4 linked regions of the Homo sapiens genome follow. The protein of the gene in region 4 interacts with the protein of the main gene of each other region in a biochemical or structural test. Each region holds a gene or a part of one and is shown on either strand. Other genes may lie near its edges.

What was found.
Region 1: of the proteins of NOXA1 (region 4) and PRKCA, one has a biochemical effect on the other in vitro, tested with the Homo sapiens proteins (one study listed by BioGRID).
Region 2: the proteins of NOXA1 (region 4) and NOXO1 form a complex in vitro, tested with the Homo sapiens proteins (2 studies listed by IntAct).
Region 3: of the proteins of NOXA1 (region 4) and MAPK11, one has a biochemical effect on the other in vitro, tested with the Homo sapiens proteins (one study listed by BioGRID).

Annotation. Positions count from the first base shown.
Region 1 is NC_000017.11:66,683,576-66,690,702, reverse strand, and holds part of PRKCA (protein kinase C alpha type), read right to left. Parts: intron 3,593-7,127; coding exon 3,436-3,592; intron 2,402-3,435; coding exon 2,267-2,401; intron 1,753-2,266; coding exon 1,656-1,752; intron 1-1,655. UniProt on the Homo sapiens protein: Calcium-activated, phospholipid- and diacylglycerol (DAG)-dependent serine/threonine-protein kinase that is involved in positive and negative regulation of cell proliferation, apoptosis, differentiation, migration and adhesion, tumorigenesis, cardiac hypertrophy, angiogenesis, platelet function and inflammation, by directly phosphorylating targets such as RAF1, BCL2, CSPG4, TNNT2/CTNT, or activating signaling cascade involving MAPK1/3 (ERK1/2) and RAP1GAP.
Region 2 is NC_000016.10:1,978,384-1,986,216, forward strand, and holds NOXO1 (NADPH oxidase organizer 1), read right to left. Parts: upstream 3,087-7,833; 5' UTR 2,797-3,086; coding exon 2,731-2,796; exon of another isoform or gene 2,637-2,730; coding exon 2,556-2,636; exon of another isoform or gene 2,349-2,555; coding exon 2,273-2,348; coding exon of another isoform or gene 2,258-2,272; exon of another isoform or gene 2,162-2,257; coding exon 1,984-2,161; exon of another isoform or gene 1,799-1,983; coding exon 1,614-1,798; exon of another isoform or gene 1,521-1,613; coding exon 1,407-1,520; exon of another isoform or gene 1,160-1,406; coding exon 1,042-1,159; exon of another isoform or gene 967-1,041; coding exon 669-966; 3' UTR 534-668; downstream 1-533. Other genes in the region: TBL3 (transducin beta-like protein 3), read left to right, coding at 1-88, 169-302; GFER (FAD-linked sulfhydryl oxidase ALR), read left to right, coding at 5,836-6,093, 6,364-6,560, 7,483-7,645. UniProt on the Homo sapiens protein: Constitutively potentiates the superoxide-generating activity of NOX1 and NOX3 and is required for the biogenesis of otoconia/otolith, which are crystalline structures of the inner ear involved in the perception of gravity.
Region 3 is NC_000022.11:50,267,274-50,274,708, forward strand, and holds the start of MAPK11 (mitogen-activated protein kinase 11), read right to left. Parts: upstream 3,108-7,435; 5' UTR 3,020-3,107; coding exon 2,904-3,019; intron 677-2,903; coding exon 547-676; intron 355-546; coding exon 296-354; intron 210-295; coding exon 98-209; intron 14-97; coding exon 1-13. UniProt on the Homo sapiens protein: Serine/threonine kinase which acts as an essential component of the MAP kinase signal transduction pathway.
Region 4 is NC_000009.12:137,418,506-137,426,457, reverse strand, and holds the start of NOXA1 (NADPH oxidase activator 1), read right to left. Parts: upstream 3,066-7,952; 5' UTR 2,929-3,065; coding exon 2,752-2,928; intron 213-2,751; exon of another isoform or gene 211-212; coding exon 128-210; exon of another isoform or gene 1-127.

The sequences.
Region 1 (7,127 bases), on a different chromosome or scaffold from region 4:
GCACATGCCACCAAACCCGGCTAATTTTTGTATTTTTAGTAGAGATTGGGTTTCGCCATGTTGGCCAGTCTTGAACTCCTGACCTCAAGTGATCTGCCTGCCTCATCCTCCCAAAGTACTGGGATTACAGAAGTGAGCCACTGCACAGGGCCTGGTTCTAAGTTTTAACATTAGAACTCTGCCAACATTAAGATAAATCAGAATGTATCATATAAAAACCTGGATTTCTGGCTTCTCTGGAAGAAGGAAGATCCGGCAATAGAGGGCCTGGACTCGCCTGTGAGAAACATCGAGTGGGGCAGGGTAGCCGTAGCTGCCACCTGCAGACAGAGCTGAAGCTTACCAGCTCACCCCAGTCTCCACCACTCCCTCCTGCTTCAATCCCGAGGCCTGCCGTTCATTGCCATTTATTATCTGTGAATCATTTCACTCGTCTGTGCTCCCAAGGACATCTAACCAAAGAGCCCCTGCCATTTAGTATTTGCCACAAACATCAACTTTAACCAAACATCAGTTTAACAAAGTAATTTGAACAACTGCATGTTTTACATCCTTTGGGATTCATTCTCTCTGGATAAGACCTATATGTTTCTTTTGTGGGGGGCATGAAGGAGGTTTATTATCCCCCCAAGACCACTCTTCCCCACCCCCCAGATCTGTATGTTTCTTGGAGAACAACAGAAGAAGGAAAAGAGGAGCATCAGCATCCCATTAGTGTCAACATTTCAGTAGCAGTTCAGCATCTACACACATGTGTGCGTGTGCACGTGTACTGCTCTAGAGCGGGGAAATTCCAGGGAATTCTAACAAGTCTGAAGAAGAGAAAGATTCACGAAGGAATTAACCAGTTACACAGACTGAAAAGGCTACTCTAGGAGTCCCTCGAACAGCCAAAATGAAGGGTGATTAGAGAAACAGACAAATATTAGAAGTTGTGCCTTTAAAACATAAGGAAGGTGCTTACAGAAAAGAACCGTTTACTAAAAGCTGAGATGTCGGTAAATGAAGAGGAGAAGGGAGAGAGAGGAGAAGAAAAAGAGGAGTAAGGAGCAGAGGAGGAGAAGTAAAAAGACCAGTGAATCCGGGACAGAGGCAAACACAAATACCAAGAGGAAGAAGAGAAGGAGGTGGCCTTTGCTAAACATCTGGAGCATAAATAAAAAGGGATCACACACAAAGGCATATTTGTTTAAGCTGCTCTTTCAGAACAAAATTAGGAACCTTGTACTTTCTGTAGAAAAAAAAAGTCTCAGATGATAGCCTGATTACACACAAATGAGCTCCCAAGGAAAGGCCAAAATGACTTCCTCCTTTTCAGAAGAGCACAAGTCCTCCTTTGTAAGAACAATCCTGCCCTCAGAGCCTGCTTCTCTCCCCAGTGATGTGCAAACAGATCTCTTATGCAGAAATCAACCATGCTCTCAGTTCTGCGATATTTCCAGTTTCCATTTTCTAAGTGGTAAGAGTCATAAAAAGTCAACAGCTTGCAAAGGAAAGGGAACGAACAACATTCATGTTTTTAAATAAAGAAAAAGATCATTAACATTGAGATTACTTTTTTTTTGCTTTTCAAAAATGTGACCACAACATCTCGGCCGTTCCTGAAGTTGGGCTTTCTAAAGGAAAGGTGTTTCCGGGCATTTTGTTATCCTCACCTCGAATTTCTGCCTGAGTTCCATGTTTCCTTCCTCGTCCCCTTCCGGAATGGGTACGTTGTAGTACTCACCTTCTTCTTGGTTAAGCAACTTGTACCTTTCAAGGACGGGAGAAGAAGAGTTACCACCGCAAGTTTAACAAGCCTTTCCTGCAGCCTCTAGTCGAGCGGTTTTGTGAAACGCATCCTACGGAGAGGCTACAGCCAGATCAGTAGACATTTGACTTTTTTTACATTTTTATATTTTTGAGACAGGGTAGCTCTGTTGTGCAGGCTGGGGGACGGTGGCGGAATCAAAGCTCACTGCAGCCTCAGCCTCCTGGGCTCAAGTGATCCTCATGCCTCGGCCTCCTGGGTAGCTGGGACTACAGGGGTACACCACCACACCTGGCTAATTTTTGTATTTTCTGTAGAGGTGGGGTTTCTCCATGTTGCCCAGGCTGGTCTCAAACCTCAGAGCTCAAGCAATCCACCTGCCTCGGCCTCTTGAAGTGCTGGGATTACAAGCATGAGGCACCATGTCCAGCCTCAACTGACATTTGAGAGACTGAAACCTAACTGTCTAAATGGTCTGATGCTTTGAGACATACTCAACCTAAGCGGCTTCCATACCATCCACTGGCCGGCATCTTCATCAGCTCCGAAACTCCAAAGGAAAGGGATCCCATGAAGTCATTCCTTGTTGTTCGATCCCAGTCCCAGATTTCTACAGACAGTCGTCGGTCTTTGTCTGAAGGTTTCAATTTGCTACAAGACACACACACATGCAAACACTAGGTTATCTTGATCATGGTTTCTTGGGAGATACCACATGTATATGACTCGAGCCTGAGATAAAGAAATAGTATATTTGTCTTCCTGGTCCAGTAAAATACCAACCCCTTATGCTGGCAAGCAAAGCGCTACAGGAGTTAACAAACTATGACCCATGGGCCAAATCTATCCCACTGTCTATTTTTATAAATAAAGTTTTATTAGGACCCAGCCATGGCTATCTGTTTACATATTGCCTATGGCTCCTTTGGCACTAGAAAGTTATACCGGTGCAACAGAGGCTATATGACCCACAAGGCCTAAAATATATACTATCTGATCCTTTATAGAGCAGAGCTTGCTGGTCCCTCTAGAACAGACAGCTACCTTTCTGGTTGTCCACAGAAAAACTGCTTCCTGTATACTACTCTACAAAGGGGAACTCTTGCTTTCCCTCAGCTACACTCAGTCCTCCTGATTTATTTATTCCCTCCTTCCTTCTTCCCCTTCTCTACCTCTGAAATCCTGGCAACCCTCCCAGGCTGGCTTTAAATGTCACCTTTTCCAGGAAGTCTTCTCTCTTTGAAGGCAAGAATGATCTTCCCATTTCAGTGGCAATAACACTTTCTATGTTACTCACTCATTCTGTGGTCTAAAAATTATTTAAATTCTTGCCTTATGCCCTCCCCTAACTCCCAAAAGAACCTAAGTCCATCAAGAGGTGGACACACCTGACACATTTTTAGCTTAAATTCTATTTACCTTAATTCTATTTCCTTAAATAGAATTGTTTATCCAGATTAGATAATAATAATCTGAGGCCTGAATTATGCAACTCTTGATAAATCAAATTACTATCTATCGAACAGGTGCTAATAGCTACCTCCCTAATGGCAGCCTGAGGAGGTCTTAGGACTGAAGACATGTTTAAAGACGTTTATAATGAACCTACTTCATTACCTCAAATAATGAGGTGGGCAACTGCATGGTGTATAGGAATGAAATTTGATCAAGGAGAGACCACTTACAATGTAAAGGACTCATTCCACTGCGGATTTAGTGTGGAGCGGATGGTTTTGGTTTTTTGCTTGCTTTCATTCTTGGGATCAGGAATAAGTTTCAGCTTCACATAAGGATCTGAAAGCCCGTTTGGATCCATAGGGATTAGATTTTTTGCATCTCGTACTGTGAAGAGAGAAGGAAGAAAATATTACAAAAAGAGAACAGACCTATATTGCCCGCTGTCTTGTGTCAATACCAAGCTGAATAAAAGAGACGTCAGAATGGCGTTTAAGGAGACAGATGGTGGAAGCCAAAAGCCTCTAACACTCGACATGAGAAAAGCTACCCGCTGCCACCACCGGCAGAGATAATGGGCATCGTGTGGGCCCTTGTGGGTGGGTCTTGGGACTTAGCACCAGCCTGGACTGGCAGCATCAGCAACACTAAGATATCTATTAGAAATGCAGAAACCCAGGTCCCACCCCAAACCTGCCAAAGCAGAATCTGTAATTTAACAAGATTCCCAGGTGACCTTTGCAGCTCCCCAGGAGTAATGGTGCACCCTCCCTGCATGGAAGCGACCAGCCCAACCTGGTCTATGGTGCCACACACGCACCTGAGCTCCCAGAAGGTGTTATCCCTTTTTGTGGGTAAAGGCCAATGGCTTCCAACTCTGACTGTACATTGGAATCACATGGGGGTTGGGGAATGGGGGAGTTAAAAATTCTAATCCCCAGAATTAAACTAGAATCTCCAAGGAATGTGGCTCAAGTATTCGTTTTTAAAAGCTCCTTGGGTGATTCTACTGGGCAGCAGGGGCAAGCACCACTGCTGTATACAGTTGTAACTCAGAATTGCTGGTCCATGGACCGGCAGCATCTATATCACCTGGGAGCTCATTAGACATGCAGAACCTTGGGTCCCACCTCAGACTTAATAACTCAGAATCCTCACTTTAACAAGACCTCCAGGTGCTTCCAATGCAATCTTAGCTTGAGAAACCTGATATGGGAATCAAAAATAATTAGAAGGAAAGGCCATTTCATCCACAGAGGAAAACAGGCTCAAAGATTTAAGAGCTGGCAGAGGCTCACAACCATGAGAAGCTGTCTAAAGCCACTGCACGTCAACGTAAAAGATAATTATCTACTGCTATGATGAAGGGACAAAAGCCTGAGTCTCCTATCTCAAATGCCTTCCTATCTTCCCATGGCATCTTTCCCAGTAAGGCTGAATTATCAGATACCCAACTGGTCAGACACCATCAACACACATATAACTGGGACCAGGCTCCCTGATTCAGTGGTTCCCACAGTGTGGTCCCTGGACCGGCGGCACTGGCAACACCTCCTGAATCAGAACTCTGGGGTGAGGTCCAATGATCTGTGTTTACCAAGCCTCCAGGTGATTCTGATGTCCATAAAAGTTGCAGAACCACAGATCTAGGCAATTAGCATAGTTTATCAGCATAGTTTGATTATTAAATTAAGAATTACAGAAGAACTTGAGAAGAAGGCACTGGAGTTGTCAGTGGGCAGGGTTAGATGGGGAGGAGGCAGGGGGAGAACCCTAAAGATGTTGGGTCTTTGGACACAAATGAGGGAGGTACAGCCCTAAGATCGGAAGTCAGAGACAGGCATTGCCTTTACTAGTCTGTGGATCTACTGTGTTCTGCCTCCTGCCAGCCAACAGCCTTACATCCTCCTTACCTGGAAGCCTTACATAGGTAGGTAACAGATGGGACTATATTCAAATACAGAGGGGGAGGGGGCTAGCTCAGGTCTGCTAGCCACAGAGAAGCTGAACATAGTTTGTCATACCCCATTTGTGCCTTCCAAGTATTTCTTCTCCTAAGAAAATATCTAACCTCATTCATCTCAGGGAGCAGATAGCACACAAATAAAACACATAGGCATGGTCCCTGTGGCTCAGCAGGTGTACATGCAAACTCTGCCTCCTTCACCATGTAACCCTGAGCACTGGGAAGCTTAGTCTCTGAGCCTCTGTCTCTTCATCTAGAAAAATGAAGACGGACATAATTCCAGTGGTATAGAATTGTTGGGAGAATCAAATAAAATAATGTTTATAAAATACCTTACATGGTTGGGGGCTTGGAAAATGAAAAAATAAATCCATGGTGTGAGTGCTCACTATACCCCAGGCATGATGTTCCGGACTCCTTTCCACTCTTATCATGCTGGAATCTATAGGGTTGGAGGCCCCCAGGGGACTTGGTCACTGGAGAATTCACCAAGCTCATGTGAAAGGTTTTAATCCAATGCAGAAAGTCTAGCCCACTAAAACATCAACCCTGAGTATCACCAAAGATGAAAAATGTGAGCACAAAAATGGAGCTCTCCCATGAGGAATGGAAAGAGGCCAACGGTCTCTCTCTGATTAAACACCAGAATGAGAATCAGATGCTTTTTAAAAGGCAGAAAATGCCCTGGAATGTCTAATACTGGAGGCTGCAGAAGGTCACATCCTGGATAAGCCAAAGAAGACCCTTATTAAGGTCACCAAGAGGTCCTGGGTTGCCTCCTACCAGTTGCAGAATTATTGCGGGTGCTGGCTTTTATATCTTCAATTTATATTCCTGACAGACAACACACACAAAAAAAATCATTTAAGTAAGATCTCTTCGGAATGGTGATGAGTTAAAATCTTGATGGGATTTAAAGCTGTGAGTGTCCTACTGAGATACTACCATTTAAGTTGAAAATAAAAAGAGTTATCAATTCTAAATGTCATTGAAGCAAATAGTGGGTCCAAATTTCAATTTCTTATCACAGCAGAGAACAGCCTGTGTGAGTGTGACTCATGGCATGCCAGGACACCTGAATCAGGATTACGAGCAACTAACTTAGGGTCCCATCTGCTCAGAGTGTAGGATCTGGGGCAAGGCTGCCTGCATTTGAATTCTGGCTCTGCCACTCTGTGGTTGTGGACAAGCTATTTTATCTTCCTAAGTTTCCTCATCTGGAAAATTATATCTCCTTCAAGCAAGGATTATGTAGGCTCATCCATGTAAAGTGCTTAGAGCAGTGATAGGCACTCGGTGAGAGCACAATAGTGATGATCATAATTGCTCTTAATACAAGTTACTGGTGGAGAACAATCTTAGATGTGCAGAAACTGCACCAACAGCTTACGGAGTGGTAAGCAAATGCCGGGGAAAACAGTACAGTGTGGTAATGTTCTAACAGGGTTTCAACTGTATGGTTTCAAGAATGTCAGGCTAAGAGGCAATGCTAGGGGGCATTACTCATAGGAATAGTTGTAAGGAAGATGGAAGAGGGGAAGCTGGGGAAGCTAGGAAAGAGAAAATAAGAGGAAAATTGAAGTGGGGAAGCGGATGAGAACAAGGGCTAGAGACAGAAGAGAGAAACAAGGGAAAGATGTGATCAAGATGTGGAGTCAAATCCCAACACTTTGGGAGGCTGAGGCAGGTGGATCACATGATGTTGGGAGTTTGAGACCAGTCTGGCCAACATGGTGAAACCCCATTTCTACTAAAAATACAAAAAGAAGCCGGGCGTGCTGGTGGGCACCTGTAATCCCAGATACTCAGGAGACTGAGGCACGAGAATCGCTTGAACCCAGGAGGCGGAGGCTGCAGTGAGCTGAGATCATGCCACTGCACTCCAGCCTGGGTGACACAGTGAGACTCTATCCCCCCGACCCCCCCAAAAAAAGATATGGAGTCAGAGGGTGAGGA
Region 2 (7,833 bases), on a different chromosome or scaffold from region 4:
GGTGTGCTCTTGAGGCGAGAGGCCCCCGAGGAGCTGCTGGCCTACGAAGGCGTGCGGGCAGCGCTTGAGGCCCTGCTGCCCTACACTGGTATGTGGGCACAGCCTGGGGTTGGGGGATCCTGGTGGGCGTGTGGACCACCCCCCTGACCTCCCTCTGTCCAACCCCAGAGCGGCACTTTCAGCGGCTCAGCAGGACCCTCCAGGCCGCCGCTTTCTTGGACTTCCTGTGGCACAACATGAAGCTCCCTGTGCCGGCCGCCGCCCCCACCCCCTGGGAAACCCATAAAGGCGCACTGCCCTAGCCGGTCCGGCCTCTCTCCAGTCCATCCTGAACCCCTGGAAAACCCATAAAGGCCGCTCTCCTGGCCGGCTCTGTCTCTCTGGACTGCAGTCCAGCCCCCCACCCTGGCCAACACCCTACCTAGCCAGCCAGAAGGGCACTGGAGCTGATGGTCTCGGCCCTGCCACGCCCATCCCGCACCCTGGCCTGGCAGAGATCCAGCCCGCGGCTCCGCACGCTTAGACGGTGGGGGTCATGCAGAACAAGCTTTACTCAGAGGAACAGCAAATGGCCCCCTCCCATCCCTGCTGGCCAGGGAGATCCGCCCTCCCCGCTCCTCCCCAGCCCTGGGATGGCGCGGTCCATCCCCTCATCGGGATCCTCGCGCTCACTGCTCCGTCGTGGGGTGCGGCACAGAGTCCACGCACCCTCGAGGGCGGCCCTGGCGCCGTGGGCGCCGCTCCAGGGCCCTGCGTGTGACGGTGCAGCAGCGGCTCTGGATGGCGCCCGGCGAAGGTCGGGTGGGCACGGTGGGGGGAGGGGCGGTGGCCTGGGAGGGTTCAGGGAAGCCCCGGGCCTCACCCGCCGGGTCGTCTCCTCCACGGAACCCCGTCCCGCTCAGGAGAGCGCCCAGCCCTTCCGGCCGCAGCAGCACCGCGGGGAGTAGGCCCGCCCGGTCGCCGTACCTGCGAGGGGCGGGGTGTGGTTAGGGCCCCGCCCGCCTCGGCTAGCCTGCCCTGCCCACGCCCGCTCCCGCGTACCTGCATAGCCACCAGCCGCGGTCTGACGTTTCCAACACGCGCACGCGCGCCCCCGCGGGCACGGACAGCTCATCTGCGCGGCTGCTCTCGTAGGCGCGGGAAGCACAGAACTGGGGACCTGGTGGGAGTGGGTGTTTGGAGTCACCGCGGGGCCACAGAGGACGAGGCCCGCCCGCACCCTTCTCCACATTCTCCTTGCTTGAGTCTGCTGACGGCGGGGCCGCTCTAAGACCGGTTCGGGGCTTCCTCTAGGTGCGGAGACCAAGCACGGGCTCCTGGCCCGCCCTGCCCGCGGTGCTTCTGGCCCAGTCTTGCCACACGGTCAAGCCGCAGTGGTGGCGTGAGGGGTGGGGTTAGGCGCATACCGCTGCTCCCTAGGGACGGGCCTCCCTCCCGGCCTTGGCCCGGGGCCGCCTCCTCCAGGTAGGGCGCTGGAAACCAGGCGGTCTGCCGGTCTTCGTTCTCCACCAGCCACCAGCCTGTGCGCAAGAAGCGGGCAGGGACTCAAATCTCGAGGCTCCCTCGGGTCCAGGAGCAGAGGAGCAAATCCCTGGGTTCTTGGGGGGCCCTACCTGAGGGGTGCCGCAGCAGCACGTCCAGGCTCTCCTGGGCCTGCGCCTGAAAAGGCCTATCCCGCGTGTCCTGGGTACAGAAGGGCTGCAGGCAGCGCAGGCTCTGAGCCTCCAGACTGTGGATGGAGAGGCGGCCCGCAGCGCGAGAAAGAGGCTGCTCCTCTGGGGTGGGCAGGATCACCCGGCTGGGAAGGGCAGCCCGTACGAGTGAGAGGTAGGCGGATGGGGAGGGTGAAACTGGGGGCGCCACCCCGGCAAGACCGCCAGCCTCCCACTCTCTGCCCCTATTCGCTGGCTGTTCCCCCCCACCCTGGACCTCTCCCAGCTCCAAACGCCGCTGCATGCTGGGAGTTTGGGGCGAGTCAGGCACCTGCCGGGTGGCAGCGCGGGCTCCAGGTCCAGGGGTTGCGGTGCGAAGAAGCCAGTGATCGTCGGGCTCCGTGCCACGCGCTCTGCAGTCGCCAGCAGCCTCCGAGAATAGGTTTCCAACAGCTGCAGGCGCGCCAGGCCGCGGCTCGTGCGCCCCACGCGTCCCAACAGTGGTGCATCTTAAGGCACCACAAAAACGTACTGTGATACGCCGCTTTGGGCTTCACTGGTCCCTGGCGCCCCCAGGCAAGCCACCGCCTTCCCCGCTCCCGTACCCAGGCTGGCCTGACCGAGAAGCTTTGGGAGAACGCGGTCAGATCTCCGCAGCAGGCCCGCCTCCACCGGGAAGGTCTCCTTGAGGGTCTTCTGAGGGCGGGAACCAGGGCATTGGTCTTCCAGAGCCCACTGTGCACCCTTGAGAGGGCGGGGTCCCTCACCCGGATGGCAGGGGCTGGGAGCTTCAGCAGGGACGAAGGGCCTCCAGTGGGAGTCACTGATGGGAGGCAGTCCAGTGGGAGGCAGCCGCGTGGGGAAGCCGCCACCGCGGCATCAGGGTGGCCCAGGGTCACTCACCTTGAGCTGCCTGAATTCGTCCCAACTCCTGCGCACGAAGGTGTCGCTGCCGTCTGACCAGCGCACAGAGAAGGCAAACGTCTGGGGGACAAAAAGTTGGGAGTGCCGTGGAGGTGCTGGTCCAGGCACCCCCTTCCTATCCCTTGGGGCCACTAAGGACCCAGCCAGGTCTTACTTGGAGCCTCTTGATCTGCACCAGGGCTGCCCCTTGCACTGAAACTGGGTATCGGGGGCCTGCCATGGCTGTGGCTTCCAGGCTGCAGATTCCTGAAATGGGCGAGGACCCTTCTGCCTCCCCGTGCTTGAGAGGGCTCTGGGGGACCCAGAAAACCCCCTGGGATAGAATCCTGGCAACACCTCAAGCCTGTGGGGTCCTTGTGGAGCCGCCCCAGCTGAGTCCTTTGCAGCTTTCTTGCTGTCCCCCAAGCCCACGATCTGGGGGCAGGAGCACAGGGATTGGGGGACTTCCAGGCAGAGCTGCTGGGAGGAAGAAGAAGAATGAGCTTTCCAGCCCTGGAGGCGTGCAAGACTGAAGAAGGGGCGAAGGGTAGGCGGGACTGCTGCCTGGGGCCCTCCTGCCTGCCTCTGGCCACAGGAGGAGGGAGGAGAAGGCAGGGCTAATCAAAGCGCCACCTGTCCTGCCCACCTCTCTGGATTCCCCTACCCTGTGAGGTAATTGCCCTGCCAGGGTGCGCCCAACAACTTTGAACTGGCCTGGGGATTTCTGTGCAGAACCAAGGACTCAGTGCTTACAGCTTTAAGTGCTTTGTCTGACTTAATCCTAATGCTGGAGGAAAGGTCTCTTAATGTCCCCAACTCATAGAGGAGGAAATGTGTGTTAAATGCGTAATTATTGTGAGCTGTTCTATACATGCTGGGGGAGGGGCAGACCTCACAGGCTCACCCCAGGGGTTCCCCTGCAGTGAGGAGACTTGGGGTAGGAGAAAGAGGGCCCATCTGTGCAGTCACTGGCATTTGGTGGGTGGGGGTGGTGGTCAGGGAAGTGGTCACTAGGGCTGTTTTGAGAACCACCTCTCAATTCACGATTTGCCATGACTTACTGCAAACATGGCCTGGGCAGAGGCTCGCCCAGGTGCCCCACCTCTCTGGCTGCTTCCTTATAGTTCGGGCTTCGGAAGCCACATTCAACCCTGGCACACAGTGGTTTTTCCTCGTGCTGGGGCCACCAGTTCTGTGTTGGGATGCACCTACTCCAGCCCCTTCAGGGAGCAGTCAGCCTCTAAGGCATCCCTCCAGGAAGCTGCCCTGGCTGCAACAAAGGGCCTTTGTGTGTCTGTCCCACCAGCACTCTCTCTCATGCCCTCAAGCTGTCCCTGGTCTTGGCATGGGCAATGAACACCTGCTCACATAGGGCTGATTTGCAGGGTTCCCCCAGCCAGCTGTCACCTTCTCCCTGTCTCAGCTGAGGGCCCAGCTGACCTGGTGGGGTCCAGCGTGTGAACCCAGGGGAGACCTTGCTCCCCTGGAAGACAGGAGAAGCTGGGGAGGATTTATTCACAAGCAGAGGCCTAGAGGGATTCTGAGGCCACCTGCCTACCCCAGCTGACAGCTCCTGCCCCACACCCCATCAGCCCTGCATGGTTTCCACTTTTTCCTCCCCTACCCTCTTTTCTTGCCTGAATAGTACACCCCACCCTCCATCTGTATGCTCCTCACTTGCCCCTACAAAATCCACTCCAAGGACAGACACAGTGCCTCACCTGTAATCCAAGTACTTTGGGAGGCCGAGGCAGGGGGATTGCTTGAGCTCAGGAGTTCGAGACCAGTCTGGGCAACATGTTGAGACCTCCATCTGTGCCCCCCAAAAATACAAAAATTAGCTGGGCGTGGTGGCGTGTGCCTGTAGTCTACTTGGGAGGCTGAGGTGGGAGATCACTTGAGCCTAAGCAGTCGCGGCTGCAGTGAACAAGATCGCGCCACTGCACTCCACCCTGGGTAACGGAACAAGACCCTGTCTCAAAAAAAAAAAAGAAATCCACTCCCCATATGATAGCCAGCGGAATCTGCAGCAAACTGAAATGGGATCAGATTGGGTAACCTTGCCCAAAACTGTCTAGCATCTTCCCTCCTACCGTTATAATAAATTCCCAATCCCCGAAGCTGCCGACCAAGTCTTTGGTGGGCCCCTGTCCGTCCCTGGATCTCCCCTCCCACCTTACAACCCTCCCTAGCGTCCCACTGGCGTTTTTGTTCCTGCAAAATGCCAAGACCCTGCCACCTTGGGCTTGGTCTCGAAGGCGCTCCTCAGCTGATTCCTCATCCTTCAGAAAGGGTCACCTCCTCAAGGAGGCCTTCCAGATTTACTACACCCTTGCATGGACCCACCAGTTTGTACGTGAACATTTATGAGTGTGAGTCCTTGTTTTTTTTTCCTGTCTTGACCACTGGATTATGAACAGAGAAGGTCAGGGAACAGAATTGTGTTCCCTGCTCTGCCCAGCACTTGGAACAGCGCTTGGAACAGAGCGGTCACTGCGCAAATAATAGCGGAATGGATAAATGAACGCAAGGAGGCACAGGAATCCCAGAGGCCGCTCCAACCGGGAGCCCGACCCCTCATCCCAGGCTCTAGGATCCGCGACAGCCGGCGAGGGGCGCCAGGGAGCCCAAGGCACGCGCCAACCCTCTGCGGCCGCGCCGCGCCCTGCGTTGCCAGACGCCCGTTGCCATGGCGCCAGGGAGGGGACAAGAGCCCAGGACCCTAGCGCGCGCCGCAATCTGTGCGGTCACGCCCGGCCCGCGTTGAGAGAGCGCTTGGCAGCCAGCGGGTGGACGCGCCCCTCAGCGGAGGGCACAAAGCCTGGCCGCAGGCACGCAGGACACTCAGAACGGAGCGATGGGGACGTCGCGGGCCGCAACACGGACTTTGCCTGGGTGTCAGCTCGGGTCCACAGCGCGGCCGAGGCGCACCTTGCGCCACACACTGCTCTTTTACTGGAGAAAGCGGGACGGCCGCCACGGACGGCGCAACCCCTGCGTGCGCCGCGGATCGACGCCTGAGGGCGCCAGCAGGGTCCGACCCTCCTGCTCCGTCCCCGCCCCTGTCCTCGGGCCCGGCCAGCGCCGCGGCCTCTGGCTCCGCCTCCACACGGGCCCGCAAGCAGGCACCGCCCCCGACTCTGCCCCCAGCCCCGGCTCGGGCCCGGCCCCCGCGAGCACGGCGCGCGCCTCCGGCTCCTGTGGCCGCGCGCTGGCCTGGAGGCTGACCTGGAGGCTCATCTGGAGGCCGAGCTGACCCGGCAGGCCTTGCGCGGGCAACATGGCGGCGCCCGGCGAGCGGGGCCGCTTCCACGGCGGGAACCTCTTCTTCCTGCCGGGGGGCGCGCGCTCCGAGATGATGGACGACCTGGCGACCGACGCGCGGGGCCGGGGCGCGGGGCGGAGAGACGCGGCCGCCTCGGCCTCGACGCCAGCCCAGGCGCCGACCTCCGATTCTCCTGTCGCCGAGGACGCCTCCCGGAGGCGGCCGTGCCGGGCCTGCGTCGACTTCAAGACGTGGATGCGGACGCAGCAGAAGGTGCAGTTCCCTGCCCGATTTCTCCCAGCCCCGCGCAGCCCCTGTCCCCGCCCCCGCCCAGGTACCCCGGCAGAGCTTCCCAGGGTTGCCTGTCCCTGAACCTTGCCCCCCGGGTAGGCCCGGCCTTACAGCCTTCATCCGCGCGTGGGTTGGATCGTCTGCAGGACTTTGGCCGGAGTCCAGTGGGCCACCGGCTGGGCCGTACAGTGGGGAGCTTTGGGCGCCTTTGTTCGGAGAATGAACTCACTCTCGGTCGGCCTGCTTCCGCAGCGGGACACCAAGTTTAGGGAGGACTGCCCGCCGGATCGCGAGGAACTGGGCCGCCACAGCTGGGCTGTCCTCCACACCCTGGCCGCCTACTACCCCGACCTGCCCACCCCAGAACAGCAGCAAGACATGGCCCAGTTCATACATTTATTTTCTAAGTTTTACCCCTGTGAGGAGTGTGCTGAAGACCTAAGAAAAAGGTAAGATGTGTTTGCACGCAGCAGAGCTTTGCACTGGAGCCTGGGCCTGGGGCTCCTGGCTGACGTTATAGCGGGGAACGTAGAGAAACGGATGCAGAGGTGGCAGAAGTTTGCTGAGGAGCAGGGACCTCCAACAGGTGAGGACTGGGGCTATCTGAGCCTCCTCCTCTCGTCTCAGAAGCCAAGCTGTCGGGATCTGCTGCTGGGTACTGCTCCTGCCACAGCCACAGGGCTTCCAGGAAGGGATTCCCTGCCTTGTCTGGCACTGAAGGCGGTTTCCCGCAAGTTAGGGAAGACTCCACTTTGCCTGACTTCTAGAGTAGGACTTCTGGTTTTAAAATCTTGGAAATCCACTGCTTTTGCTCCCAAGAGCCATCTCTTCCTCACTGAGGGATCCAAGAGCCAGCACTGGCCCTTGCAGGTGTTTCTAGGCCAGATGTATAGGGTAGAGCCGCCATTGTTGCTATAAGGCTGGTCAGTTAGAATGAAGTCTCTTGCTGAACTGACGCACCAGGGCCTGCCCTCAGATGCTAAGAAACAAGTCCAGTTTTCAGTTACAAGGCTGTGCCCAGCCCCACCCAGGCCACACTCTGCCTGAGGCCAGGGACACTGGATGCCGCTTCCTGGGTGTTAGGAGCTTATAAAATTGCCAGGTCTGTGCTGTAATGTGTTGCCTTGAGGCCTCGTTGGAGTTTGCCAAGCTGTCCAGGTGGGTGTTTGCGCAGCCCTGGGAGTTCATCACACCCGGGGAGCTGCAGGGTCAGCCCTGTTCTGGGAGTGCCTGTACCTTGGAGCATAAGGGCACTCCCAGGTGTAGTTCACAGCAGTGCCCCAGCTCTCCTTCCTTGACAGCAGACAGGGAACTGGCAGGGGCAGTGGAGCCGCTGCGTCCTCTCATTCTTTACCTGCTCTCCCTACACAGGCTGTGCAGGAACCACCCAGACACCCGCACCCGGGCATGCTTCACACAGTGGCTGTGCCACCTGCACAATGAAGTGAACCGCAAGCTGGGCAAGCCTGACTTCGACTGCTCAAAAGTGGATGAGCGCTGGCGCGACGGCTGGAAGGATGGCTCCTGTGACTAGAGGGTGGTCAGCCAGAGCTCATGGGACAGCTAGCCAGGCATGGTTGGATAGGGGCAGGGCACTCATTAAAGTGCATCACAGCCAGAGCCTGTTGTGTCTCAGTTGGGTGGTCCCCAGGACACTGCCTGTGGGGACCTGCCCTGCCCCTCTTAGGTTTGGAGCAGAAGTGGAGGTGCCCACAGCAGGTA
Region 3 (7,435 bases), on a different chromosome or scaffold from region 4:
CCGAGTGGATGTACTGCGGGAGGGGGATTGTGGTGAGCGCCGGGCCCGGCCCGCCCGCCCCCCTGCGAGAGGACCCGCGAAGCCCAGGGCGCCCCACCTTCAGCCCGCGCAGCAGCTGGTAAACCAGGAATTGAACGTGCTCGTCGCTCAGCGCCTGGCACTTGACGATGTTGTTCAGGTCGGCGCCCATCAGGGTGGTCACCAAGTACCTGGGGCGGGGTCAGGGGGTCAGGACAGGGCCCCACCGCCCCACCGCGAACGCGCTCCCCGCTGCCTCGCCCGCCCCGCCGCTCACACTTCGCTGAAGTCCTCGATGGACGTGGCCGGCGTGAAGACGTCCAGAAGCCCGATGACCTAGGTGGCGGGGGGCGTCAGGGCCGGGCGACGAACCCCCGGCTGTCGTTCAGCTCCCCCCGGGCCACGCCCCCAGTGCCAGGCCGCGCCCCCTGTGTCCCCGCCCCCATCGCCAGGGCTCGCCCGCCTATTGGCTGCGCCGCGGCCCCGCCCCCGCACGCGCCCTCCCCCCACGGCCCTCCCCCGGCTCACGTTCTCGTGCTTCAGGTGCTTGAGCAGCCGCAGCTCCCGGTACGTTCTGCGCGCGTGGATCAGCGACTGGAAGGGGCGCGACAGCTTCTTCACCGCCACCTTCTGGCGCAGCCGGGCGTCGTAGGCCGAACTGGAAGGCGGGCGAGTGAGGCGGCGCCGGGAGGGGTCCGAGGGCGGCCGCACGCGCGTGGACCCGGGCGGCGTCCCTCTCGCCGCTTCTCCGTGGGGATGGGGCCGTGGGGCTTTTCTGCCCCGGCCCCGCCGCCCCAGCTCGGCCTCCCACCCTCGGGCCTACCCACTCCGCGCTTGCTGGGAAGGAGCCCCTGGGGCTGGACCACCATGCGTGTGTTCACCCCACAAGGTCCTGGACCTTCTCTGTCCCCTGGCCCCACTGATTCCCACGCTCAACCAGGGGCCCCCATTCAAAGCAAGGCTGGGGGAGAGGTGCCCCATCCAGCGTGGAAAAACACAGCAGGAAAACAGTCACTGGCATTCACCTGCAGCAGACGGGCCTCCCTCTGCCCCATAGACCCCATGGGCCCAGGAGGCTCACAGAGGGGGATTCTAGAGCCACCTCAAAGCCCCTGGACCCCTGGTGCCTCCGAATGTTCAAAATACGGAGGGAAAGTTGGTCAGAGGTGTTTATTGCATCATTATTTGGAACAAAACCGGGACAGAAGGTGATGTACAGCTGAGGGCGTCAGCTGGACCCACAGAACAGCCCTTCGCCCAGCCCCACTTCCCAGAGGTCCAGACCCTCTACCCTGCACCAGCTTCCTGAGCCCACCCTCCCTTTGCAGGTGACCCTCATCCCACCCTCCCATGTCCCACTGCCCTCAGCCCTGCTAAAGGAAAGGCCTTTGCACAGCCTGTTCCCTCTGGCTGATACTTGCTTCTTCTCTCCCTCCCACTTCTGTCTCTTGGGATCCTGTCTCAGAGCAAGTGGAGGCTGAGGCCACCCCCCATGCCCACACAAGGGGAGCAGGAGCGGCTCCTGCTGGGTCTGGGATGCTCATGGGCGCAGGTCGAGGTGCCTGGGGCAGCCATGCTCCCAGCCTATGACCAGGGAAAGGTGCTCCTGAGGTGGTGAGGGGAGTGGCCCTGCACGTGGGGCAGCAAGTTCTTTTGGCCAATTGCATCTGTGCGGTCAGGTGACAGGGAATTGGCACCTGGCCCGCAGCCTTGGCAGTGGAACTAAGAAAATGGGCCAGGGGTGCAAGGGGGGAGACCAGGCCTCACTCAGAGAACCGGACACCTCTCAGCAACTCCCAGACGGCGAGTCCAGCCATGACCCACCCTAGTCCCCTATGGCCACTCCCACACCGTCCCAGACCCTCTTCCTGCCCTTCAGGTCTCAAAGAGGAAGACAGATCTGTGCTGGCATGATGGCTAGAATGACCCACCTACAGCTTCTGATGGAAGGCTAGGGACCACACCAGAAGACAGCCTGCCCTGGGACCCCCGGCCCCTGATGCCGGCTCCTGAGCTCCAAATCTGGTGGGCCTAGAGGTCCCACTTCCAACCTGCAAGTGCCTGGGGCAGAGCTCTGCCCTGGCTGCCTCTGCCTTTGCGCCCCACCAGGACCCCCCAGTGGGCAGCAGCTAAGCGGCATTGGCCATGGTGAGGACTCAGCTGCACCTCTCAAAGCCTGTACCCATGATCAGCCTCCCAGTCAACATGGAGGCTGAAACTTAGGACTCCCGGTAACTACCTCACCCTAAGCCCCTCCAGCCCTGGCTACCCGGGTCTAACAGAGACCTTGGCCCAGTTGACCCCCCTCCCCCACCCAGACTCTGTCGTCTTCCTGGGCCCCAGGCCAGGTCCTCTGGCCCCAGGGCCTAAGTGGGGTTTGTGGTCTGAGGGGGAGTCTGAGGCCATCCCAGGGGGAGAGATCTTGGCTTCCGGGAGCGGGGCTTCCCTTTTCAGACAATAGCCCCCAGCCCGGGCGGGGGAGGGTCATCCGCTAGACCCCGGGGGGCTGCCTGACCCGACTCAGTGAATCTCAGGTGGGTGCTCAGACGTTTAGGGGCCCGGACATCAGGGTGGCTCGGGGCTCGGTCGCGTGAGACCCACCCTCACGCCAGCTGTGACCTCCCAGGCCTCAGGCCTGGTGGGGAGCAGTCCGAATCGGGAGAGGCCGGAGGACCCCCCTCCCTCCCGGTAACGGCGTCTGCTTGGAAAGTTTCTTTACGCCGCCACCCCCGCCCCCCCATTCATTCCTCAGATCCGCTTGGCGCCCGGGGGCGGAGGCAGGGCGAGGCCCCTCCCCACGCCGAGAACCTCGCGCGGGCGAGGAGGGGACGCGCTCTCCGGCCCGGCCCGGCCCCCACCCAGCACCCCTTCTGCCCCGCCCCTACCAGACGGAGCCGTAGGCGCCGGAGCCCACCGGGCGCAGCCCCTGCAGCCGCTGCGGCACCTCCCACACGGTCTTGTTCAGCTCCTGCCGGTAGAAGCCGGCGCGAGGGCCCGACATGTCCGGAGCAGCCGCCGCTCCGCCCGGGCCCAGCCCCGCGCCCCGCGCCCGCGCCCGAGCCGAGCCCGAGCCGAGCGGAGCGGAGGGCGGCGGAGGCGGCGGCGGCGGCGGGCGGGGCGGGGCTCCGGGGCGGGGCCGGGAGGCCCGGGCGGATTTCCCGGGCTGGGTGGCCGGGGCGTGGGGGGGTTCCCGGAGACAAATGCGCTGCTTCCTGCGCCTCGGAGGCGGTGGCAGAGCGGAAACCAGCCCTCCCCTTCCCGGGGGGGGCGCCGAGGGCGGACACCTCCCTCCGGCTCTCACCTCTTGGGGGCCGCGCGCTTCTCCAGACTTGCGCCCGCGTCTGGGCTCGGCCCGGGCTTCCCTACCCCGGCGGCGCCCTCCCCAACGAGGGAGAACCGTCAAAAGCGAAGAAGCCAGGGGTAAACCATGGGAAGTATTTTTCAAGACAGAAATATGAATAGCACCTTCTAAAGACTCGGCACTGGATAGGAAAATAAGCCGAAAGGCGTTGGGACAGGGCCGGCCTGGCTTTCTTGCGCAGGACCTGCAGGCCTTGGTCCGCGGTGCGCCCCGGGAACCTTCCAGGCCTCCTGCCCCGGCTCGCCCTGACCTCCCCTCTGAGAGAGGCGCGACCGCTGGACTGTCAGGACCAGGGACAGCGGCGTCACCCCGGGGCCTTCCTACCCACAAGCAGCGGCCCCAAACGGATCCTTTTTGCTGCCCAGAACCTTTCCTCCTCCTTAGCGGCCACCTCTTCTAGGAAGCCCACCCTGACTATCCCAGGTCCGAGGAGCCGCCTTTGGGTGCAGGGTCCTTGAAGTCAGCCCCGCGGGCGGGCAGGCGCGGGGGGCTGCCTTGGCGGTGACGGGGGCAGCGCCCCACTCGGCGTCTCTGCCGCGCTCGGGGCCGCACAGCTACTTTTATTCCCACTTGAAAGCGACCGGGGCTCGGCGGAGCATTGCTCCCTGGAACACCGGCCACCGACCTCCGCCCTGGTAGAGCCGTGGTGGGAGGCTTCGCGGCTGGGCGACCCCCTCCAGCGAAGTGAGAAATCAGGATCCCAGTGGCCCAAAACACTCCTTTTTTAAAACACTAAAATCCGAGTTTTAATGTCAAATCTGATTTTTATATATCGGCAACCAAATTAAAACAGCCAGCACGGTGCTGGCCACCGGACCCATGCGGACCGCGGCGAAGGAACGGGTCTCAGTCCCAGCCGCTCCGGCCCCTTTTGCATGACCAAGCCCCGTGCCTCAGTTTCCCCATTGGAAGCCGGCATCCGGCTGGGGGCCTGGCGCGGGCCCGGGGATGGCCCCTCTCCTCGCTCGGGCTGGGTTGGGGCGAGGACACGGGCAGCCTCCCCGAGGGCCCCCGCCCGGGAGCGCCTTTCACTGGGCCCGGCCGAGGCGGGCCGAGGTTTTGTGCAGAGTTAATGGAGCTTCAGCTAAAGGAGGAGGAGGCCGGAGCGCAGCCCCGGAGCTGTGGGAACCGCGGCCGCGGCCGCCGGGGGAGGGGAGCGGCCTTTGTCTGCGCCGCGGCCGGGCGGGGCGGGAGTCGGGTTCCCATGGCGACCGGCCCCGCCCCTGCGCCTCCCCGTGGACTGGGCGGCTCCGTTCTCGCCCCTAGGGTGGGGGACATGGAGGTGGGGAGGTGTCAGGCTTCCCCCAGGCGTCCGCCCGCAATCCTCGCGGCCTCGCTGCAGGCCCCGGCCGCTCAGCAGGTCAGGCGGGCGTGTGGGGTGGGGGTGGGGGCGGGGGGCGGTGGAAACGGGCCCCTCTCATCACTGAGCTGACCTGCCCCGGGAACCCCCTGCCTGCCCAGGCATTAGAGGTCCCGCCCATGTGCCTACTGGGGACAGTGTGGGGTCGTGGCACTGCAAGGGAGTGATCACTGAGGAGTTTCGGGTGGCGTCAGGGCCTGGAGGCCATCTTCCAGGAGAGGCACCTTCAGAGCTCGGCGGGGGCAAGGGAAGCCCCCCTGGAGGGAGCCGCCGGTGGAGGACAGTCCCAGGCCCAGAGGGGAAGCGGCAGGGGAGCCAGGAAGGGCCGGTGGCAGGGCAGGAGTGAGAAGCCCTGGGCCAGAGGCGCCTCTCCTACCCAGCTGATTCGCTGTGGCCCCTGAATACAGCAGGCCACCCCTTCTCCGTGCTCATGCCCCCACCCCACCCCCGCTGGTCCTGGCCACCCCTCCTCACTGGAGCTGTCACTGTGACAGCTCCTCTCTGGTCCTGCTGGTCCCTCCCAGCTGGCCTCTTCCTGCAGTCAGTGAACTTCCTAAAAGGCAAATCTGGCCTTGCTCACCGGGAGACCAGGCGATGGTGGTCGCGGAGCTGATTTAGCAGGGGACTTGTCCTGCCTGTAAGAAGCAAGCAGGATGTAGCCTTGGGCTGTTAAGCTACCCGCCACCTCTCCTCCCACCACTCTGGGAGGAAAATGGGACTTGGAAAGCACCAGGAAGGACAGGCCACCCCTCGTCTGTCGCCAGCTGACCACTCCAGCCCACCGCATGCACCCCAGCAGCTATGCCCAGCTTCTACCCGGTGCCTGCCCCCACCCAGATGCTGGACTGCTGGGCCTGCAGCCTCTCCCCAGCCCCAAGTTTCATGTGTGTGGGGTCTCACTGACCCTTCCCTTCTTTCCTGACTGCCCAGTGGGACAGGGAAGAGGTGGACTGCAGGGGTCTAGTACGGAAGCCAGGCCTCCAGGTTCCCAGCTCCCTACTTGAGACCTCCCGCTCAGCACTTAAGCCTTCGGTCCACCCCCTTGCTCTGATCTCCTGACCAGCCATGTCTCTGGGTAAGGGGGGAACCCAATGTCATTTCAGGGATCCTTGGAGCAGGGGATGTCAGTTGGCCTTGTACCCCTTTCTCTTGTGGGGGAGAGATGGCCACCCGTTTTTCATCGTGGCTTGAATGGAGCTGTGTGGGCGGCAAGCCACCCAGGCACCGAGGCAAGAGAGAGGACACGAGCTGTTGCAGTATAATAAAATATAAAACAAGAATAGTTATACCAGATATAGATCTTAGATATGATTATATATGAATATCATTAATCATTAGTTTGTAGCAATTACTTTTTATTCCAATATTATAATAATCCTTGCTCAATAATCATAGCCTAGGAAAAACCAGGCCATACAGAGATAGGAGCTGAGGGGACATAGTGAGGTGTGACCAGAAGACAAGAGTGGGAGCCTTCTGTTATGCCCGGACAGGGCCACCAGAGGGTTCCTTGGTCTAGCGGTGACGCCAGCGTCTGGGAAGACGCCCGTTACCAGGCGGGCCGTGGTCCAGCCGTAGCAAAAGGTGTCAAGGAACAACACCCACTACTTAGCAGACCGGGAAAGAGGGGGGGGGGTCTCCCTTTCCCCAGGGGAGTTTAGAGAAGACTCTGCTCCTCCACCTCTTGTGGAGGGCCTGACATCAGTCAGGCTTGCCCGCAGTTATCCAGAGGCCTAAACGTCTCCCTGTGATGCTGTGCTTCAGCGGTCACACTCCTAGTCCACTTTCATGTTCCATCCTGTACACCTGGCTCTGCCTTCTAGATAGCAGTAGTAAATTAGTGACAATACTAATAGTCCCTGATATGCAGAAATAATGGCGTAAGCTGTCTTTCTCTCTGTCTCCTCTCTCTCTCTGCCTCGGCTGCCAGGCAGGGAAGGGACTCCTGTCCAGTGGACACATGACCCACGTGACCTTACCTATCATTGGAGATGACTCACATTCTTTACCCTGCCCCTTCTGCCTTGTATCCAATAAATAACAGCGCAGCCCGACATTCGGGGCCACTACCGGTCTCCATGCATTGGTAGTAGTGGTCTCCTGGGCCCAGCTGCCTTTTCTCTTATCTCTTTGTCTTCTGTCTTTATTTCTACACTCTCTCGTCGCCGCACACGGAGAGACCCACTGACCCTGTGGGGCTGGTCCCTACAGAGCTGCCCCAGTCCAAAGGGGACTCGATCAATGGAGGCCTTGCCCATCAAGAGACCCCAGCCATGACGTGCCCAGGTGGGGAGACAGGCTGGGGCTGCCTGAGAATGGATCCTCGTGAGTGGGTTAGCAGTCCAGACCAGCAGAACCTCAGGATGTGTGCCTGGATCCAGCCACATTTGAAGCTGGGCCTTCACTTTGTGTCTGGAGCACCGAATGCCCTCTGCCTGGGCTGTCTGTATTCTTGGCACACAGGGGAGGCTCTGAGCCCTGCCCGTCCTGGTTGCTGCTGTTCCTAGCGCTCAGGACAGTGCATGCGTGGTGTGCAGCGGGCATTTGGTAAGAATGTGTTGCACGAAAGAAGCCACCAGATGGCACCAGAAGCAGTCCCACCTCCCACCCCCCCCACCTCCCCTCAGCACCTCTCCCAGCCCCCTCCACCTCCCCCCAGCACCCCTCCCAGCCCCCTCCACCTCCCCCAGTACCCC
Region 4 (7,952 bases):
GAACCATGGAGGAGGGGGTGGGCAAGAGGAGGGAGTGGATGGAGAGGGAGGAGGAGGAGGTGCAGGAGTGGACTCTGCAGGGAGACAAAGGGCCGTCAGAGAAGGAACAAGGCACCCCTGTACTCACCTTGCCAGCTGGAAGTTGGCCACTCCTCGCTGGAAGAAGCCAACCGCCATGCAGGTGTCCTTGGTCACGGCTTGGTCAAATGCCTGGGGACAAAAATGCCCACGGGATGCCAAGGTCTGTAACCTGGTCACGCAGCATCACAGATACAGCGTGATGGGTGACAGGGCCACGGAATTCCGTCAGCCCCTGGGGACCCCCCACAGCCCCTCCTGCTCCTGTCCAGGAACCTTCGGAGCCCCTGCCTGGGCAGGGCTGTCGCCACTCAGGTTGCCACAGCCCACCCAACCCCAACCCGTCCAAGGCGCAGAGCCCACTGAGGTGCTGCTAAAACCAATGTGTTTACCATGAGCACAAGGACAGAGGCCAGAAAAAAGTGTTCCAGTATGTTAATAATAGTTACCTCTGGGGAGTGGGGTTATGCAAGATTTTTGTCTTTTAAAAATCCTTTTTTTTTTTTTTGAGACGGGGTCTCGCTCTGTCACCCAGGCTGGAGTGCAGTGGCTCGATCTTGGCTCACTGCTGCCTCCGCCTCTGGGTTCAAGACATTCTCAAACTCCTGACCTCAGGCAACCTTGGCTGTCACATACTGGAGACGAGATAACGCAGTCCAGATCCCAGAGTCAGCAGCTAAAGAACTGCATTACAGGCCGGGCATGTTAGCTCACGCCTGTAATCCTAGCATGTTGGGAAGCTGAGGTGGGCGGATCACCTGAGGTCAGGAGTTTGAGACCAGCCTGGCCAACATGGTGAAACCCCATCTCTACTAAAAATACAAAAATTAGCTGGGCATGGCGGCACGCGCCTGTAGTCCCAGCTACTCGGGAGGTTGAGGCAGGAGAATCGCTTGAACCCGGGAGGTAGAGGTTGCAGTGAGCCAAGATCGCACCACTGCACTCCAGCCTGCAAGACAGAGCGAGATTCCGTCTCAAAAAATAAATAAAATAAAAATCCTTTTTTGATAGTTCATGCAAAATGACACCCTAGAAATCTATTAGAATCAGAAAGAACAACACACGTCTTCATGTGTTTATCTGTGTGTAAAGCACAGCTCTTCCTTAAACCAGACTCAGGAGGACACAGAAGGTTCTGAACAGGGACCGTGGCCATCAGTTAAATGTGTGTGACAGGAAGGGTGCTACGGTCTCTTTCACAAATCTGGCTGAGTGGGGGCTTGTCGTTGAACCAAGTTCACACAGGTGTGAAGTGTGGCGGCTGAGCACAGGCACGCAGCCCTGATGTGGGGTGGCGGCTCAGGGCCAGCAGAACCCACCTGTCTGCCCCAAACGTCACGCAAGGCTCCTAACAAGAGACAGCAGTTCCAGCGACACCCTCTGCACCCTGGGCTGCCCCTCACGTGATCGGCTTTATGAATCATAGCTGTTCCATCTGCTTTCCTAAGTTCCCATATTCCTAACATGCATATGCTGTGGGTTAGTCGTATGACTTTCACTGCGTCCCCTCTCTGTAGTGAAACCAGGCACAAGAGCACAAGTGACTGGGTTAGCCCCGGACATAGGATTTGTTGCTGAACCACCTGGTGTCTAAAGATTACATTCCCTTTCTTGGATAACATTTTAAAATGAAATCATTGTGGGCCGGACAAGGTGGCTCACATGTGTAATCCCACCACTATGGGTGGCCGAGGAGGGTGGATCACCTGAGGTCAGGAGTTCAAGACCAGCCTGACCAACATGGTGAAACCCGTTTCTACTAAAAATACTAAATTAGCCAGGCGTGGTAGTGGGCGCCTGTACTCCCAGCAACTAGGGAGGCTGAGGCAGGAGAATTGCTTGAACCCGGGAGGCAGAGGTTGCAGTGAGCCAAGATTGGGCCACGGCACTCCATTCAGCCTGGGTGACAGAACGAGACTCCATCTTTGAAACAAACAAAAAAATGAAATCATTATGGAGGTGATTGTAAATTTGTACGCAGCTTTAAGACACAAGAGAGGGGGGTCTCATGCGCTTTGCCCAGTCTCCTCCAAGGGGGATATTTTGCCAGTCAGGGGCGTGGAGACCCTCCCACAGCGCGCAGTTCCCTCTCCTTTAAATCACTGCTGTCACCGAGCCTTCAGTAACCGTGGGCACCTGCCTGCTTCTGCGGGGTGCTTGGGACTGAGCGGGGGTGGGCAGCGCTGGCGTTTGGGATGCGCAGGAACAGGCGGCCCCGGAACGCGAGGGGGCACGAGAAGGGCACCGGGCTCCGTGCAGGGCCTCGGCCGCTGCACCCTGGCACCCTGGACTCCTGGCTGTTTCGGGGAGTGGGCTGGGGGAGGGCTGAGGGCTCTGAGGAGGAGACTGACCCGGTCTCCCGGCCATGACCACAGGCGCAACGCTTTCCCCTTAGGGCAGGGCGGTCCCTCGGGCCTGACCCAGCCCAGCAGCTTCCCCCTTCCCGGTGTGAGTCACCCTCGGGCCCCGGCCTCTCCCGGTGACCGCCGCGCCCCCCAGCGCGGCCTCGCTTAGCTCAGGTGCGGCCCCCCTGCTCGGCTCCCACCTGCCGGGGCGTTCGCTGGGTCGGGGGCGGCAGGGCGACCCCGTGACGGTCGGGGAGGGGCGCTGGGCCCTCCCCAGGGGCTCGAGGCGGAGGCGTCGCCCGCACCGGCCTCCCCACGCCCCGCTCACCCGCAGCGCGGCCTCGGGGTCCCCGGCCAGCAGGTGCACGCAGCCCGCGTTGAAGCACAGCCTGGCGGGCGGCGCCGGGACGCCCGAGAAGAGGTGCAAGGCGCGGGCCCAGTCCCCACGATCCACAGCCTGCGCGCCCAGGTGCCAGGCGCGCACCAGGTCCCCCAGAGAGGCCATGGCGGCCGGTGGCGGCGCTCGAGGAGGGGCCAGGATCCCGCGGAGGGGCCGGGGCCGGGGCCAGGCGGCGGCGCGGGGCTGCGGGGTCTCCGAGGCGGGCAGAGGTGCGGGCGCCAAGCGCCAGGTGCAACCCCGCTGCCCCGCGGCGCCCCCTGGCGGCAGGCGCCCGCCCCTCCCCGGTAAGGCCACGCCCCCGCCAGAAACGGCTACGCCCACTCCAGACCCTCAGGCCTCGCCCACCTCCCATTCGGCCCCCGCCCCGGCCGGACTTCCGCCGGGAGCTTTGTGCGCCCGGCTTCCTCGCCCCGCCCGCGCTGGCCTTGGTGCGCCGGATAAAGCCCTCCGGGCCAGCGGCTGCGGTCGGGCCAAGGTTCCGCGCCGGGCGTGGACGGTGTGGGGCGGTCCCGGCCCCGCAGGTGAGCGACCCCGGGCCGCGCGGGCCAGGTGGGCGGTCTGGGCGCCGGGGGCAGAGCGGGGCCGGGCCGGGTGCGCGTCCTGAGGTGAGGGCCGTAGCTGGGAGTGAGCCGGGGGCGGGCCGCCGGCTCTCCCGGGGTGGGGAAACTGAGGCCCCGATGGGGCGGGGAAGGTGCGTTCTCCCGCAGGGCCCCGCTCCGGAGGCCGCCGAGCAGCCGGACGCCGCGGGGAGCTGAGCCGACCCCGGCGACCCCGCCGCCCTGTCCCGCAGGGCCTGCCCTCCTCCGCGCCTTCCGAGCACGGACATCACAGGACCCGGAGGCCCTTCGCTCCCTCGCCGAGGAGGAGGCGCTCCCGGTGGGACGCGCGCGCGCCCGCCCTGCCCTCCCCGGGAGAAGGGACGGGCGCCTCCCTGCAGGGGCCCTGGCTTCCTGTCCACCGGCGCTGAGTCCTGTATTAGTTGTCAACCTAAAATAATTAAAAGGGTCAGAATGTGGTGCCCGGTGGGTTTATTCAGGCACAGAGGTCGAGGGCGGCCTGGGTCACCAGGTGCAACGGAGAACAAAACAGAGGCTCAGGTTTTTAAAGAAAACAGAGCCCATCGGAGAGCAGGTGGTTTCGAACGTTGCCCAGGAGCTCACTGGCTTGTAGAAATGGCATTGGTTCGCGATTGACCACGGCTTGGTGTCATCAGTGGATAGTTACTTGGCTCGAGGGGTAGTGAGGGGCTGCGGTTTCATTTGAAATGCTTTCTGGCACTTAACATCAAGCTTTCTGGGCCCACAGTTTAAAAGGGCTTTACATTCCTCAGATAAATGATTTTTTTCTTTCTCATTTGCCCCCCTTTTGATCAAAATCTTTCTTCTTGAAAGCATTGATTATCAAAATCTGAGGGTCAGAGTGTCCCCTCTTGCTGGGAAGGCTCATTCCCACATAGTCCTGTCCCATGCCAAGCAGGGAAGGAGGAGACATTTCAGGGAGTTTTTTTTTTTTTTTTTTTTTTAAGAACACCACAAACTGAATTGGAATGGCATTACAGGGTGGCAAACATGAGGTCTCAGTGAAGTCATTAATTTATACAACTGCTGTCACCTGTTGAATCATCTCTAGTTTTTAGAAACACCATTAATTTTAATTTTCTCAGAAGTAACACATAGGACTATAACCAATTTGTATGCCAGGATGAAAAAAACAAACCTGTTCCATTAGGGAGACAACTAAAAACATGAAGAAACTAAAATCCATGTTCTTCTTTCTTTTTATTTATTTGTTTACTTAGAAATGGGGTCTTGCTCTGTCACCCATGCTGGAGTGCAGAGGCACGATTCCCACTCATCGCAGCCTTGAACTCTTGGGCTTAAATGATCCTCTTGTCTTAGCCTCCTGAGTACCTGGGAATACAGGTGTTTGCCACCAGGACCGGCTAATTTTAAATTTTTTTGGTAGAGACTAGGTCTTGACACCTTGCCCAGGCTAGTCTCGAACTCCTGAGCCCAAGTGATCCTCTCATCTGGGCCTCCCAAAGTGCTGGGGTTATAGGTGTGAACCTCTGCCCAGCCAGGTTCTTCTTTGAGACTTGTAGCCAGAAGATTGTTCAGGATTTAGTCCAGATTGTAGGAAAATAAAAAATACAATGATCAGGGCTAGAATCCAGTAACAGGTATGCTGTAGTTTTTCTCTGAAACATAATTTTTCTCTACTTCCCCATTTCTACCAAAGATAAATCTTGGTAAGACCAATTTACTTGTAAAATAAATTTTAGGATTATATTTGGCCTGATTATTTGCCTAAAGTACAACAGTGGTGATTGGCCATATAGGCTCCTTTCTAAACTGGCTGGAACTTTGCCATAAGGAATTTCAGACTTTTTTTCCCCACATCAGACAGGTAATGTGCTGGCGTCATAACAGCGTTTGAAGGAGACAGACCCTACACATGAGGCAATCATCATGCTTATGAACTACAAGAGGGTCAGAATAGACCTTTAAAAGCCACTTGAGGGCTGGGCATGGTGGCTCATGCCTGTAATCCCAGCACTTTGGGAGGCCAAGGTGGGAGGATTCATTGAGCCCAGGAGTTTGAGACCAACCTGGGCAACATAGCGAGGTCCCTGTCTCCACAAAAAATTTAAAAATTACCTGGGCATAGTGGTGCTCACCTGTAGTCCCAGCTACTCAGGAGGCTGAAATGGGAGGATCGCTTGAGTCCAGGAGATTGAGGCTGCAGTGAGCTATGATCGCACCACTGCACTCCAGCCTGGGTGACAGAGCGAGACCCTGTCTCTAAACAAAACAAACACTTCCCATGTCTAGGAAGCCAAGCCAGTGGCTCCCCATCACAGTGTATGTATAATACCTGTATGAATTTGGGGGGGGGGGTGAATGTCTGTCCTCCAGGTCCCAAACTATCTTGAAGTTCCTGGATCTGTCGGAAAGTGACATTCTTTCCTTACCTCAAGGCCAAGAACCTTTTAAGGGAACTATGTAAACAGGGCACCAGTCCAGTCATCCCAAGGGGCTTTTTATTGGCTCTATAAAGCGAACCTCGATTCCTCAAAGCAGTCTCGTCATATCCAAAAATACGTCATCCCAGTCCAAGCCTTGGTAGAATAACCAGGGTCTCCAATTGTGTCCTGTTACAAGGACAACAGATTCTTACTGAACTCATGCAAAGAACTACATTGCCATAAAATAAGAATACTCATGAATCGCTTCCAGATTTTTGAGAAATCAGGTAGAGAAAAAGACAAATATTTCAGTTTTGCTCACAAAAGTATATGTCACTCAATTGCTATAGCTATAAATAGCTCAAAAAGAAAAAGGTTTTCTGACTCTGGAAAACAAAATATAAAAAGAGTCAGCAAGGTTTCGATAACAACAAAAAATCATAAAAAGCATTTCAGGCCTCTATCAGTTCAGTTCTATGTAATTTGCTGGGGTTTTTTTTGTTTTTTTTTTAGGCGGAGTCTCCCTCTGTCGCCCAGGCTGGAGTGCAGTGGTACAATCTCGGCTCACTGCCAGCTCCGCCTCCCGGGTTCACGCCATTCACCAGCCTCAGCCTCCCGAGTAGCTGGGACTACAGGCACCTGCCACCATGCCCGGCTAATTTTTTTGTATTTTTAGTAGAGATGGGGTTTCACCGTATTAGCCAGGATGGTCTCGATCTCCTGACCTCGTGATCCGCCCGCCTTGGCCTCCCAAAGTGCTGGGATTACAGGCATGAGCCACCGCGCCCGGCCGCTTTTTTCTGTATGATGTTGGGTTAACAATCCTCATGAATGCATCAGCTTTTAAATAAGAGTCCTGGAAGTTTTTATCTGGTCTACTGGTGTGATCTCCCAGGTTATCGGAAGTCTGTATACTTGTCAATGTCCTTTCCATGAATTTCCTTGAAGAAAATGCAAATTTTGGACTGTACCTTATTTTATTTTATTTATTTATTTATTTTGAGATGGAGTCTCGCTCTGTTGCCCAGGCTGGAGTGTAGTGGTGCGATCTTGGCTCACTGCAACCTCCGCCTCCCAGGTTCAAGCGATTCTCCTGTCTCAGCCTCCCAAGTAACTGGGATTACAGGCATGAGCCACCATGCCCAGCTAATTTTGTATTTTTAGTAGAAACGGGGTTTTACCACATTGGCCTGGCTGGTTTCGAACTCCTGACCTCAAGTGATCCACCCGCCTCAGCCTCCCGAAGTGTTGGGATTACAGGCATGAGCCACCGTGCCCGGCCTTAAACTGCATTTTGAGAAGAATCAAAGTAAAACAGTAATTTTCTGCAGATGACAAAAGACTTAGAGTAGCCATGGGTGAAGACGCGATTGGCAGGGAATTTGGTTACTTCTGAGGTTAAAACAGTTTAACATATAATCGTAATCACGACTGATAACATATACCAAGACATGTCAGAATTTTTAGGAATCTCATACAATTTTGGAACATATGTTAATAATACATTTATACCAATATAACTCCAACAGCATTCCACATTTGACAATGCTTCCTGTATGATTTTAACATACCACATAAGCCTCGTACATCTCCCTTGGACTTCTCGGGGTTCCTATTTGTTATATCCAAGTTAGTTCAGGTGAAAAAAACCCTTAATGTTAGGACTTGAAATTTGGTTTTGGGAAGTCAAATATCAGAGGCTTAAAACAATCTCAAAATAGGACCACAGGTCACTGTAAAATAAGCCATTCATTTAATCAAATTGGTAATTCAGAGATTTCCCAAACCAAAAACCTTTACTATGACAGAGAGGAGACTTAGTTTCCCAAGCAATCAATAGACCTACTAAAGACAGCGTGAGGCAAACAGAATGTCTCTCCCTCTTTCCCCTTTTTTTTTTTCTGTTTACTCAGAAGATAAAAATATTTTACAATCTCTTATTACTACACGAAATGTTGTTCAAAAGAAAAACAAACTCTGCTTTTCTTATACATCTCACGTACAGAATTGTTTCTCTTATATTTAGTAGTTTCAGTTACATATATTAATTACAGTGTTAACTTCGTGACCCTAATTTTCCGTTAAAAACTCAGCGAGTAATTTTGAACTGTATGTGTAGATGGAAACCATTTCATCATGTTTTACAGAGATGCATCTCCTAAAT